3 separate regions of the Homo sapiens genome follow, and regions 1 and 3 are each linked to region 2. The links come from fine-mapping of genetic effects on gene expression. A gene starts in region 2. Each other region holds a variant in brackets. All regions are shown on one strand. Distances are from middle to middle. Region 1 overlaps ARRB1 (arrestin beta 1). Region 2 holds the start of ARRB1 (arrestin beta 1). Region 3 has its middle 5.0 kb from the start of RPS3.

What was found. PIP is the estimated chance that this variant, and not a neighbour inherited with it, causes the effect. A credible set is the group of variants that fine-mapping cannot tell apart.
Region 1: its variant is the best candidate, but not a certain one, in a credible set for the expression of ARRB1 in whole blood (INTERVAL, PIP 0.74).
Region 3: its variant is the best candidate, but not a certain one, in a credible set for the expression of ARRB1 in whole blood (INTERVAL, PIP 0.55).

The regions. Positions count from the first base shown.
Region 1 is chr11:75,264,302-75,268,499 of GRCh38, reverse strand. ARRB1 (arrestin beta 1) reads left to right here. Exons shown (of 16, transcript NM_004041.5): 15 at 797-848; 16 at 2,226-4,198. The coding sequence ends at 2,337. Among named protein-coding and RNA genes, the nearest start is that of TPBGL, 26 kb to the right of the region's middle. RefSeq lists enhancers at 1,816-2,315, 2,316-2,817 and a silencer at 2,406-2,495. The variant G/A (reference allele first, on the strand shown) is at 2,477.
Region 2 is chr11:75,349,377-75,353,574 of GRCh38, reverse strand. ARRB1 (arrestin beta 1) reads left to right here and starts at 1,914. Exons shown (of 16, transcript NM_004041.5): 1 at 1,914-1,987. The coding sequence starts at 1,968. RefSeq lists enhancers at 706-1,661, 2,724-2,773 and a silencer at 1,894-2,173.
Region 3 is chr11:75,392,462-75,396,659 of GRCh38, reverse strand. No RefSeq gene overlaps it. Among named protein-coding and RNA genes, the nearest start is that of RPS3, 5.0 kb to the left of the region's middle. The variant G/T (reference allele first, on the strand shown) is at 2,407.

The DNA of each region.
Region 1 (4,198 bases), 85 kb after region 2:
ACAGTCTCACTCTGTTGCCCAGGCTGGAGTGCAGTGACGTGATCTTAGCTCACTGCAACCTCCGCCTCCCAGGCTCAAGAGATTCTCCTGCCTCAGCCTCCCGAGTAGCTGAGATTACAGGCGGCTGCCGCCACACCTGGCTGATTTTTGTATTTTTAGTAGAGACGGGGTTTCACCATGTTGGCCAGGCTGGTCTCAAACTCCTGACCTCAGGTGATCTTCCCGCCTCAACCTCCCAAAGTGCTGGGATTACAGGCATGAGCTACCATGCCTGGCCTGGCCTGTTTTTCAAGTGATAGCAGATTGGTCATATTTCATTGAATCTGAGACTTTCAGTGGAGAGAGACAACATAATAGTAGGTACAATTAGGAAAAAACTTCCATGGTTAAACTGTGCAGTGCCATCGACGGTAAGACACACTCCAAATTTGGAGATGTTAAAATGTGAAGGAAAATATAAAAAAGATTGTCTTAGAATTGGTGAATGGCATGCATGCAAGGAATTAATGTAATTCATGTTGGAGACCTGTCAAAAGAAACAGAAGTTTAGAGGATTTTCTGTTCTTCTGGGGCTGCAGTGGGGATCCGGGGCCCTCCTGGTGCCATCCTCCCTGCCTTTCAGATGATTTGGGGTGTTTCAGTACCAGGAATGAGTCCTCCCCCATCTCCATTCCCCTTTATCCTTTGCCCTTCTCATGTTAGTCTGGTTGTCCCAGGGTGGGGGCCTGTGCTTACTCGCCCCGTGCTCATCCACTCACTAATCCCTGGACACCCTGCCCACCCACCCTGTGTTTAGTTCCAGAGAACGAGACGCCAGTAGATACCAATCTCATAGAACTTGACACAAAGTAAGCTGAACCCTGCCTGCAGACATCCGGGGGTGGGCCGCGGGTGGGCGGGGTGGAGGGGGTCATTTGCATATATGCTTATTAACTCCTGAGGAGCCGCTGGTCTAACCCCGTCTGCTGAGAGCCACCTCTGCTCGCCTCTTCAGCAACCCGCTTGCCTGCATGTGACTTGAAGGACCCTCCGTGCCTGTTCCTCTTCCTCCTGCCTTGGTGGGGTCTGTCTTCCTCCCTCGTCCTTGCACGTCCGTCCGTCAGTCCGTTCGTCCATCCACAGCGCCTGCTCGGCTCACACAGGGCTGGTCCATGGCCCTGGGCTCGGCTCTCCTGTCCTGCCCACGCCAACCAGTGGAATCAGGCTGTGGGGTGGGCAGGGGACTGGGGATCTTGTTGCTTCTGACTCCTGAGGACCAACCGATGTGGATTTCCCTGCAGTCAAAGGCCATCGAGTCACCGGACAGTGGCCAGAGGGGGAGGACCTGGGCCGACTGCGCGGACCGCCTCCAGGTCCAAGTGGCTTTCTTGCTCCAGCTCCAAAGCCAATCTTCCCTTGTCCCCCAGGAGAAATCTGGGGTGTGGGGGTCTCAGGTCACCCCATGAGGATGCCCCATGCACTGGCTGAACCCTGTTGGGCAGGGGACCCAGGTGGACACCTGCATGGTCCTAAATGGACATGTTTCATGGTAGAAGGGAACTCGCTGTTCTTAAAGGCAGTCTAGTCCTGAAACCCCACTCAAGCCTCCCCTTTCCTCACGAACAGGTCCTCTGCCCCCCTATTTAGATTCACATCCTCCTACCCCAGCCTTCTTCTGTCTGGGATCCCCCAAGGTAGAATCTGAGCTGACACTTCTGGGAGAAAGGTTCTTCATGGTCTTCTCTTTCATTAAGCCAAACTACTCCTTGCTGTCCAGAAACGGGAATGCTTCCTAAGGGTAGTTTTCTGGGTGGTGGGGTGGGGTTTGCCGGGCCTATTCTTGGGGGATTCAGAACATGCTGTGAAACTACTGGTGGCCTGGCCTCTCACAGTGGGAATAAGTCCTTCCTCTGGCTACAGAGCCACACTGCTCCCCCCACCTCCTAAAGAACCAGGTTACTTTTCTAGCCCTCAGGCACAAGAGTCAAATTCATGCCCCTCTCTGCCCCTTTCATGACTGGCCCGAGTCCTGATGTGACTGTCCCCACTGCCACAGGTGGCATCCACATGTGCCAGCCAGACAGGCCTTTCTGCTCATGGTCAGCCCCAGAGGCCAGAGACCTCAGAGAGGGTGGTTCTCCCCGGCCCCAGAGCCATACTCTGAGTCACATCTGGCCGGGCCTCTGGATAAGCCTACTCTCCCTGCCCCTGCAAACACACCACATTTTCCTTGTCTCTCCCACCAGTGATGACGACATTGTATTTGAGGACTTTGCTCGCCAGAGACTGAAAGGCATGAAGGATGACAAGGAGGAAGAGGAGGATGGTACCGGCTCTCCACAGCTCAACAACAGATAGACGGGCCGGCCCTGCCTCCACGTGGCTCCGGCTCCACTCTCGTGCACTCGGATGCTTACTCGTCTTCTTCCTGTTCTGGTTTCTTTTCCCCTTTGTTCTTCCAGTTTCTACCAGGGGGCCCCGTGGGCTTCCAGATCAC[G/A]GTGATGAACCTCTGGCCTCAGGATTGGCCCCACATCACCACGCCAACAGGACCACAGCGCACTGGCTCCACCCCATCTCTGCCATCTCCACTCCCCTCCTTTTCATGCTGTCTCCCAGAAAAGCTGCCAGGGCTCTGGCCTTGGAATTGGACTTGAGATGGGGAGCAGACAGGGGAGGATGGGGAATGTGGGACACGGTGTGGTGGGCATGAGGGCTTGGAGGGGTGGGGATGAGGGCTCAAGACACGAGAGAAGATGTCCACGGTCCCAGGTGGTTAACAAAGTTCTGGCAGCTAAAAGATGACCGCGTTGAAGGCCACCTCCTTCTGGCTGGGAGGGGCAGAACTGTGGACAGATTCTCAATGCCTTTTTGAAGTTCTGACCCACCAAAGACCTTCTGCCTTCACCCTCCTCCCCACCTGATGTCCCTCTGTGTCTGATAGTGATGTTGGTGAAAGTTCGTAGACCCCAGGAGTAGAGAAAAGCAACTGGACTGACTTTCTTACCAGCAGTTACCTAGACTGAGGCAAGCTGTGTGGACTCACCCAAGTATATTTCAGTACTGTCAGGCTGTGACATCTTAGCTACCTTGTATTTCAAGTGCATGGCCCTGTCTAGAGATATGCACAGAGAGAAAAGCAGAGGGAGGGAGGGAGGGGGTCTTCAGCAAGCACCAGCCCCCAGCAGAGTGAGCTGAAGCTCCTGAGGAGGGTTCCCGAAGGGGGGCGCTCAGAGATGGGGGCAGGGGGCGGGGAGAGGAGAGTCTGCCTTATGTCCCTTCCTTGTGGACTTCACATGGTCATGCAGGAAGTGAGGATGGGTGTCCAGCGGGGGCCGAGGCCACTAGTATCCTCCTGCTTCCCCCTGCCATTCTCCAGGGCTGGACTGACCCTATGGACTGGGAGAGAGTGCCTGAGGCCACCATGCCACAGTCAAAGGGGGTCCTATCTCAGAAGGTGGCAGCATCCACTGAGATATCCTCACCCGAAGGGAAGGAGGCTGCTGGGTAGCAAATAAGCCCCTTCTTTTCTTGGTGAGTTGATGACCTCCAATAGCTCCCAGTGTCATGGGTACCCAGTACGCATTAGCTGGTGTTGGGTTGATTGAGACCTGGGGCAGTTCCTGGGGCAAGAAGCCAGATGGGAGATGAGATAGAAAGTGTTAGGAGTTATCCTCTTTGCCTGGCCTTTGAGAATAACTTACTGTGTGACTTTGGGCAAGTTCCTTCCCCACTCTGGGCCTCAGTTTCTCACTTGGGAAAGCAAGGAGTTTGACCAGATGATCACAATGGGCCTTCCTAGCTCTGGCCACCAAGAATTTGTGAACATTAGAGCTCCTGGTCTGGTGGGTAGAGCCAGAGCTGCTGACTGGTCTCTCTGCCTCCAGAGGGGATTTATTGGACCTCAGAGGTGGCAGGGCCCTATGGAGCACCAACTGCCCTCAACCCCACCCTGTGCCCAAGACTGGGAAGGGATTGATGTCAGGCTGTGGCCATAGGTAGCATGAGTTGCCCAAGGAGGGACAGAGCATATCTTTGCTGAGGCTTGGCTGAGGGGCTTATGATAGGGCTTGCAGTACCTCACAGCCCCCTGTGGGCACAGACACCCTGAGGTTTACCCAGGCAAATATATTGATTAGCAGGACAAGGGCTCTCTCCTCAGTTTCTGCTCCCTTCCATCTCTCTCCCATACTTGTCTGAAAAGGGAGACAAAAAATCTTAT
Region 2 (4,198 bases):
TGAATCCCTATCTCTACAAAAATACAAAAATTAGCTGGGCATGATGGCAGTGGCTGTAATTCCAGCTACTGGGGAGGCTGAGGTGGCAGAATTTCTTGAACCCAGGAGGCAGAGGTTGCAGTGAGCCAAGATCATTCCATTGTACTCCAGCCTGGGTGGCAGAGCAAGACTTCGTCTCAAAAATAAATAAAATAAATAAATATATTTAGATGTTTTGGGCATCAGCATGGAGAGATCCATTGGAGATCTTATGGTTTGGTCAAACCTGTTTTACAGGTGGGGAAACTGATGTGGAGAGTGGCAGGACCTGGCTTCACCATCCTGGTTAGGGATCTCCTGTCATCAAAGAAGATTCTAGTCTGCTCCTTTCCAGATCTCTGAGCCCTGCAGAAACAACAGGTGGCTTCCTCTTCTTCCTCTGTAGAGGGTGAAACCCAGAGGCCAAGACTGGGAGGAGGGTTCTGGGCTTTCATCCATACTCTCTAGCTCCTAACATTGCCCAGAGGTGGGCCACCCTGCCTACCCATCAGCCTCCCCCTGCCCCTCTGCCAAATCTGGACATAATTATAGTAATTATACTGCATATAAACAGTATAGGTAACTGCTTCTGAGCATAATTACAGGAGATGTTTACATACTCACAACAGCATCAGAGTAAATGATAGCTTACTTTCCCCTTAATACTTAGATATCAGGGACCTATCCGGGATAATTAGCCAAATCTCAGTAGTGAGGGTGTGGTAAAGACCTTACCGTTTCCCACTACCTGCAAAGCAGGAAGGCACCTCAGACAAAGCAGGGTCCCAGCCAAGATTTCACAGGACATCAAGAAGCCTGCAGAGAAGTGGGCTAACATCTACTGGGCACCTACTGTATGCAGGCGCTCAGGGGAGGCCAGCAAACACAAGCGAGTTCTTTCAACCTATTAACAATTCTGCAGGCTGATATTAGTGTATCCTCACTTTACAGGTCCGGACATGGGTTCTCAGAAGCTTAGTGCACAGGGTCACCCACAGCGAGCCATGGAGCTGGGCATGGGCGCTTTCCACGGTGCTACCCGGTCACAGCAGCGGGCCAGCTCTGCCCTCTTCCTTTATCGCCTCTTCTCACTTCTCACAGCTTCCTCTTCCTGGGCGGCCTCCTGCAGCCCCTGCTGGCCGCGGGTCTCCGCTCAGTTCCCCAGTGTCAAGGCCGTCTACTGCCCCCTCCGCCCCTTCTTCCTGTCCCTGTTGTGTGGCTGGGTGTTATCTCTCCAGTAGAAGGGGGTGGGGTGGGTGGAATGGGGAAGGGTGGAGCACAGGGCGAAGGCCTTGCCAGGCATCCCGGGGTCTCCAGCTAAGCGAGGGGCCGCAGGGAGCGCGGCCTCGGGGTCGCCAGACCCTCGGCTTCCAACCACCCGCACACACAAAGGCTGCCCCGGCATGCGCGGGAGAGCGCGCTCGCACCCACGGCCGTGCGCACACACGCACAACTGCACAAAGACGTGCACACTCCTCCATCCACACCAATACACTCCCTAATAGGGCCCGCACACAGCCGTGCGCCCTCACATACACCACACCACCACCACCACCACCACACACACACACACACACTCTCACACGGACTCGCACGCGGGTGGACCCCCTCCCCCACCACAAACGCCGACCTTGGGGCCCTGACGCGTCCCGCCGCGCTGCCCTGCCTCGCTGGGCGGCGCGCGCACACGCAGACGCGCACACACACACACATACACACACGCACACACCCCGCGCGGTTCCACGCCCCTGGCCGCGGCCCGGGCGCTGCGCTGCTCGACGCGGCGGGCGGCGGGCGGGGACCGGGGGCGGGGGCGGCGGCGGCGGCCGGGAGAGCGGAGGAGGCGGAGCAGGGAGCCGGGAGCGGGCTGGCCCGCGCTCCTCCTGCTGGCTGGGGATTTTCCAGCCTGGGCGCTGACGCCGCGGACCTCCCTGCGACCGTCGCGGACCATGGGCGACAAAGGGACCCGGTGAGTGCAGGGCGGCCGCCCGGCGGGGGGCGCGTGGGGGCGACCTCGGCGAGGACACGGGCGGGGGCTCCGATTGCGTCCTGGTTCTGCGTTCGCGGCCACCGCGGGATCTAGTACCAGCTCTCCTCCACCCGAGGTCTCCTGTGTGGTCTCCCCGGCAGGGCCGTGGGCGGGGGGACCCAAAGGGCGAGGGCCGGGCCGCCCCATGTGGGCCGCAGCTCCTGGCCCGGACACACAGCTCGCTGACACCCAGCATTGGCCGGCAGCCGCAGAGACGCACGGGGGCAGGTTGACACACAATACACGCACGGGCACACTAACCCGTGGCACAGGCATGCTGGCGCACACACTGGCAACCGCTAGCACACGCTCATCACACGCAGTGGCACGCCGTCATACACGCCTCGGTCAACACATTCTTGCTGACAGCCTTGTTGGCATGCACAGCTCACAATCCAACACACACCAATTCTAGCACACCCTCGTGCTGGCACACACGTGTGGGCATACACTGATACGCACACTGTCACCTGCACTCGCTGTAGCAAACACTCTTGCTGGCACACACATCACCCTCACTGGCACACACACTTGTGCTGGCATGTCTCACCAACACAGCGGAGCGCAAGGCCACACCAACACTGACCCCCACAGACACAATCAGACTGATGCCCTCAAAGACTGGCACCCCACAGGCACGAGCTGCTAGCCCAAGGCCCGCTGACACACACGCTTCAGGCCCCACATGGCCAGAAGTGGAAACACACACATCACACAGGGTAGAGCGCCCCCCGCCACCCCCAGCCTGGGGAAAACAGATCGCATTTCATCCAAATAGATCCCATCCATCTACTCTGTTCCCTTTCCCTCTGACCTCCTGAGGAGTGGCTGGCCAGGGGCTGTTTTGAACCTAGGGCTGGGAGAACCCCTCCCGTTCTCCTAGAACCTGTCCTGAAATACTCAGAAACAGTCTCTGCCTCTGAAAGGGGAAACTGGGACAAAAGGAGGAGGGGGCTGGAGCAGGACAGCCCCTGGGGGCAGCCCTTCAGACAGGACCAGCGCTGGTCAGGGGCTCAGCGTTGCCACCCTATTTTCCCCGTTGCCCTCCCCACCCCCTAAGTGGGCACAGCAGCCTCTCCCTGGGCTCCCCCTCTTTCTCATTGTTTTCTGTCTTTCTCTTCTATTCTTGTGTCCGACTTCTGCCTCCTTCCTTTCCTCCCCTCCCCTCTCCTCGTTTCCATTTATTATTAAGCTCTTGCTGTATACTAGGCGTAGTGTGGGGGATCAAAGATGCGCAAGGCCCACTCCTCCCCTGAAGGAGCTAACAGACTAGAGAGACACCACCCCGGTGGGCACCACCTTTCAGGGCCACTGACAAAGCTATTTCTCACCCACTGCCATCTAAGACTCTCTCTCCACAGTGTGAGAAAGGGCTTGCAGAGATTATTTCCATTTTCTAGAGGAGGAAACAGGCTCAGAGGCAACTCAGGCTCTTAATGTTTAGAAACTACTTTCCAGCCATCCTCCTGACAGCTCTTCCAGGAGGTTAATTTTCCTCTTCCTGTTTTCTAGCAGAGGAACCAGAGGGCTAGAGGCCATGTGATTTGCCTAAGGTCAAAAGGGGCCAGAGGCAGGGCGGAGGCTGGAGTCCACTTGGTCATGTCTCTGTGGATGGCCCTAGGGCACTGCCAGGCCCCTCATGGGCCAGGGAGGGGAGCCCTGCTCTGTGCTGGAGGCCCAGGCTTTGGGGGGGACGGCAGAAGATCATGCTGTGTCTGCATGAACCTTGATGGCTAGTCCCCATTGCAGCTGGCTGGCCAGCACTGTGACCTAGGCCTCTGTCCTCAGTAGGAAGGTATGTGACTCCTTCCCCAGCCACATCCATCTGCCCTGAAATTAAGACCCTCTTGACCCATGAGGTCAGGCTTTTCTTCCTGCAGGGCATAGCAGGGAGTCGGAGCCATTCTCCACTCCATTGTCCTTCCTAGGCTGCCTTGTGATCGGAGTGACTCAGCCTCTCTTGGGTCTCTCTGTACCTCTCTGTGACTTGGGGGATAAGTGTCATTGTTGTCCTGCTGACATGATTGTCAGGAAGATGTGGACACCATGGGCTTCCAGGCACCTGTTGGAGACCCTGTCTCTGAGGCCAAGGTATTTTCCATGGCTCCCCCTGCCCTGCCTCAAACTCACTGGTGGACCTTTGGGACATTG
Region 3 (4,198 bases), 43 kb before region 2:
GAGTAGCTGGGATTACAGGCATGCACCACCACTGGCTAATTTTTGTGTTTTTAGTAGAGACAGGGTCTCACCATGTTGGCCAGGCTGGTCTCGAACTCCTGACCTCAGATGATCCACCCACCTCGGCCTCCCAAAGTGCTGGGATTACAGGCGTGAAGCACTGTGCCCAGCAGAAGCCCTAGTTTCTGACTTCAGTTGTGAATGCTTGGCGACAATCCTTACCAAGATGAGGAACCTAGGAATAAGTTGTTTTTCTTCCCCCCCCCACCCCCCATCCATCTGTTATCTCTCTCTGCTCTTCATGTGCCTCTTCATCCAACTCCTTGGTCTGTCTATAGAGTGGGGCCAGGTTGCTGAAAACATGAGCCTGGTAAATCCACCTGCCTATGGATTCACTAGAGATGTGGGCGCTGAGGGAGAGCACCTGGCCTTGCGTGCTGGGATCAGAGTAAAATCACAGCAGGCTCCTAGACCCTCTCAGTGAATCGCTTCTATTTTTCATTCCCATATGCCTCACATTCTCCCACGGTCCCTATTATAATCTTTGACAAAGCTAGAACCCCAGAACCTCCTCCTCACTTTCAATAGTCAACCTCCCTCCTAGTCCCTTGCCCCCCTAATAGATTGCACAACCAGAAACTGCCTCCCGCCCATCCTATAATCCCATGTGTCCCTGGCTATCCTTTCCTCCTTCCTTCCTGGCTTAGGAAAGAGACCCTCTTTCTTCCCAAGGCCAGCCTTCCCATTGTGTTCTGGTCCCAGTTTAGTTCTGTTTCCTTAAGACCTTGCTCTAGCAATCATTCTCCCCGTTGCCCATGGTAATCTCACTTCATACTGACTCTTTCCCTTCCCTGCTGCCCGCATGTTAAATACACCACTTCTTCAGGGTTTTGCCTCCTCTCATTGCTTTGATAGCGTTCTGTGCATCCCCTCCTGTGACACTCAGCTCACTGGGTTGGAATGGTCTATGTGTTTCTCTCAGTAGACTGTAGGTTCTGTAAGAGCCTGGACTGAGCCTATTTTATTCATTCTATTCAGAGCTTGGATCTGGACAGGCTCAGGCCCAGTGTCAGTCAAAGTTTGAAGAGCAAACAAATCAATGCATGGATTCTGGTTTTTAGATAGTTACTCGTAGCGTGGAACTAATATGAATTTGCCTGCACATGCTGTATCTTATTTGGGATGTTCAGAAAACCAAATTCTGGAGGCTCAAAGCTGAGGATCAGACAGTGGCAAGTTCTCTGAGGTAAATGCTTCTTGATGATGTGGTAGCTCATCTGCTGCCCTTCCCCAGGGATGCCAGGAGGCTGCCTGCCTGAGTGTCACCCCCTAGTCCCAGGAGAAAGTCCATGAAGGAAGCCTTTGTCTTGATCATACTGCCCTTCCTTTGTCTAAGACTATTATAAGAAAAAGGCAATATAGTACTCAAAATAATGCTATGAAAACAATAGTAGTTGTGATACACTGAGTTGTAATTAAGAGCAAGGACAGTGAGAGTGCCTTAATCTCTCCCTGGGTATCCAAAATGAAAGCAAGGCTTTATCTGTTCAGCCCACAGAGTCACAGAATTCTCCCTGGGATTGTGAAGAGAGGACTGTGTGTGTCTGAGAAAAATATGGCTTTGTGGCCACACTTGGGCCATGCAGGGGCCCTCTGAGCGTCACAAAGGTACTTTCCTGAAATTCCTGAAAACCAAAGGTGAGATTTGCCCTGGTCAAATGAATACAGCCCACAGTTTCTGGGAACAGTTTGAAAACAGTAGAACCTCATAGAAAGCATTGAATTTACCTGAATCCAAAGGCTGGGCATGGTGGCTCACGCCTGTAATCCCAGCACTTCGGGAGGCCAAGGCAGGCAGATCACTTGAGGCCAGGAGTTTGAGACCAGCCTGGCCAACATGGTGAGACCCCCGTCTCTACTAAAAATACAAAAATTAGTCAGGCATGATGGCAGGCCTATAGTCCCAGCTACTCAGGAGGCTGAGGCACGAGACTCATTTGAGCGCAGGAGGTGGAGTTTGCAGTGAGCCATGATTGCGCCACTGCACTCCAGCCTGGGCAACAGAGTGAGACTCTGTCTCAGGAAAAAAAAAAAAAGGAAAGAAAGAGAGAAAAACTTACCTGAATCCCACTCGATGAGCTTGGCAAAGAAAGAGAATTGAAGTCGTGGGAATAGGGGTGGGTGTGCCTGCCTCACTGCTCCAGAGTGGCTCAGAGGGAGGTGGGAAGACAGAGGAGCTTCTACTGTTCACAGAGAGAGGGTACATGGGTCTCCATTATGGCACCTGTTAAGGGATTGCTGTTCTAGGGCAATAGCGACTATATTCAGTTGTCACTTACTTTAGAGTCTGACACCCCCAGAGAGACACAATGATGTCATTGGATTCTCAGTGTTTTGTTTAAAATT[G/T]ATCAGTGACTCACTCTGGGTCTCAAATTGAGTCTGCATATTCATAGAAGAATGCTGTCAAATAAATTTGAACAGATCTTTTTTTTTATTGCTTTTGTATCATTGCTTAAAAGACTCACACTTCTGAATACCCCTACTTAAAATAAAAATAAGATTCAGTGTATGGAAGAGTGTGATAAAACAAACATCCTCACTCTGTAGGTGAGGTGTGAATTGGTACTTCCTTTTTGGAGGGCAGCTTGGCAGTATCCACTAAAATTGAAGATGTAGATTCCCTTTGGCCCAGAAAATACATTTCTTTTTATCTACTGCAGAAAAAGACTCACACAATGTACATGGGGTGATTACAAGAATGCTTATTAGAACATTATTAGTAATAGTGAAAAAATAAATTATAAACAGCCAAAAAGCCCTGAAGTAGGAAAATGGTTATGGAATATTATGTAATCACTAAAAAAAAAGAAATAGATCTGTGTACTTGCATGGAAAAAGCATTAAGTAATTCTGCTATGTGAAAAAAAGCAAGATGCAGAAAAATATTACTCTATAATATTTATGTAAAATATAATAAAACATATCTATGCATGTAAATGTATGGAAGGATTTATACTCAACTGATAGAGAACTAAGGTTACCTCTGGGGAATGCAGCAGTATTAGGGGAGGTTAAGGAGCAATTTATGGCTTGACTTTTCTTAAAATATATTGGCTGGGTGCAGTGGCTCACGCCTTTAATCCCTGCACTTGGGGAGGCTGAGGTGGGCAGATTGCTTGAACTCAGGAGTTCGAGACGGGCCTGGGCAAAACTCCATCTCTACAAAAAGATACAAAAATTAGCTGGGCGTGTGGGTCTGTAGTCCTAGCTACTCAGGAGGCTGAGGTGGGAGGATGGCTTGAACCTGGGAGGTGGAGGTTGCAGTGAGCCCAGATCGTGCCTCTGCACTCCAGCCTGGGTGACAGAGCGAGACTCTGTCTCAAAAAACAAAAAAGAAAAAAATATATATATGCATGTGTTACTTGTGAAATGAAAACAAAGAAAAAAGAAAAAAAATGTAAGGAGACACGAACATATATGGATTTCTGATCATGCGACCACTTGTGAAACAATGGGGATGTCTTTTCCTACAACACAAAATGGCATAATCCTTTCTTCTGAAAACTCAGAGTCTCTTTTTTTTAAAAAAAAAACTTTTCATCTACAATGTGATCTATGATAGAAAACTCAGAGTCTCAGGCCAGGAGCTGTGGCTCACGCCTGTAATCCCAGCACTTTGGGAGGCTGAGGTGGATGGATCACCAGAGGTCAGGAGTTCAAGGCCAGCCTGGCCAACATGGTGAAACCCCATCTCTACTAAAAATACAAAATTAGCCGAGTGTGGTGGCACACACCTGTAATCTCAGCTACTCGGGAGGCTGAGGCAGGAGAATTGCTTGAACCTGGGAGGCGGAGGTTGCAGTGAGCCGAGATGGCGCCACTGCACTACAGCCTGGGCGACAGAGCAAGACTCCGTCTCAGGAAAAAAAAAAAAAAAAAAAAAACTCAGAGTCTCTTATTCAGACTATACATTTGTATTATCTTATACCATAGGCACTGACCTCATGGGGCTTTTGAGCACATAAAAATGGCTAGTCTGGATGGAAAAATGCTGTAAGCATAAAATACACACCAGATTTGGAAATACAAAAAGGAATATAATGTCTCATTAATATTTTATATTGATTACATGTTGAAACAATAACACTTTATATATAGGGTTAAATAAAATGTTATTACAATTAAGTTCATCTATTTC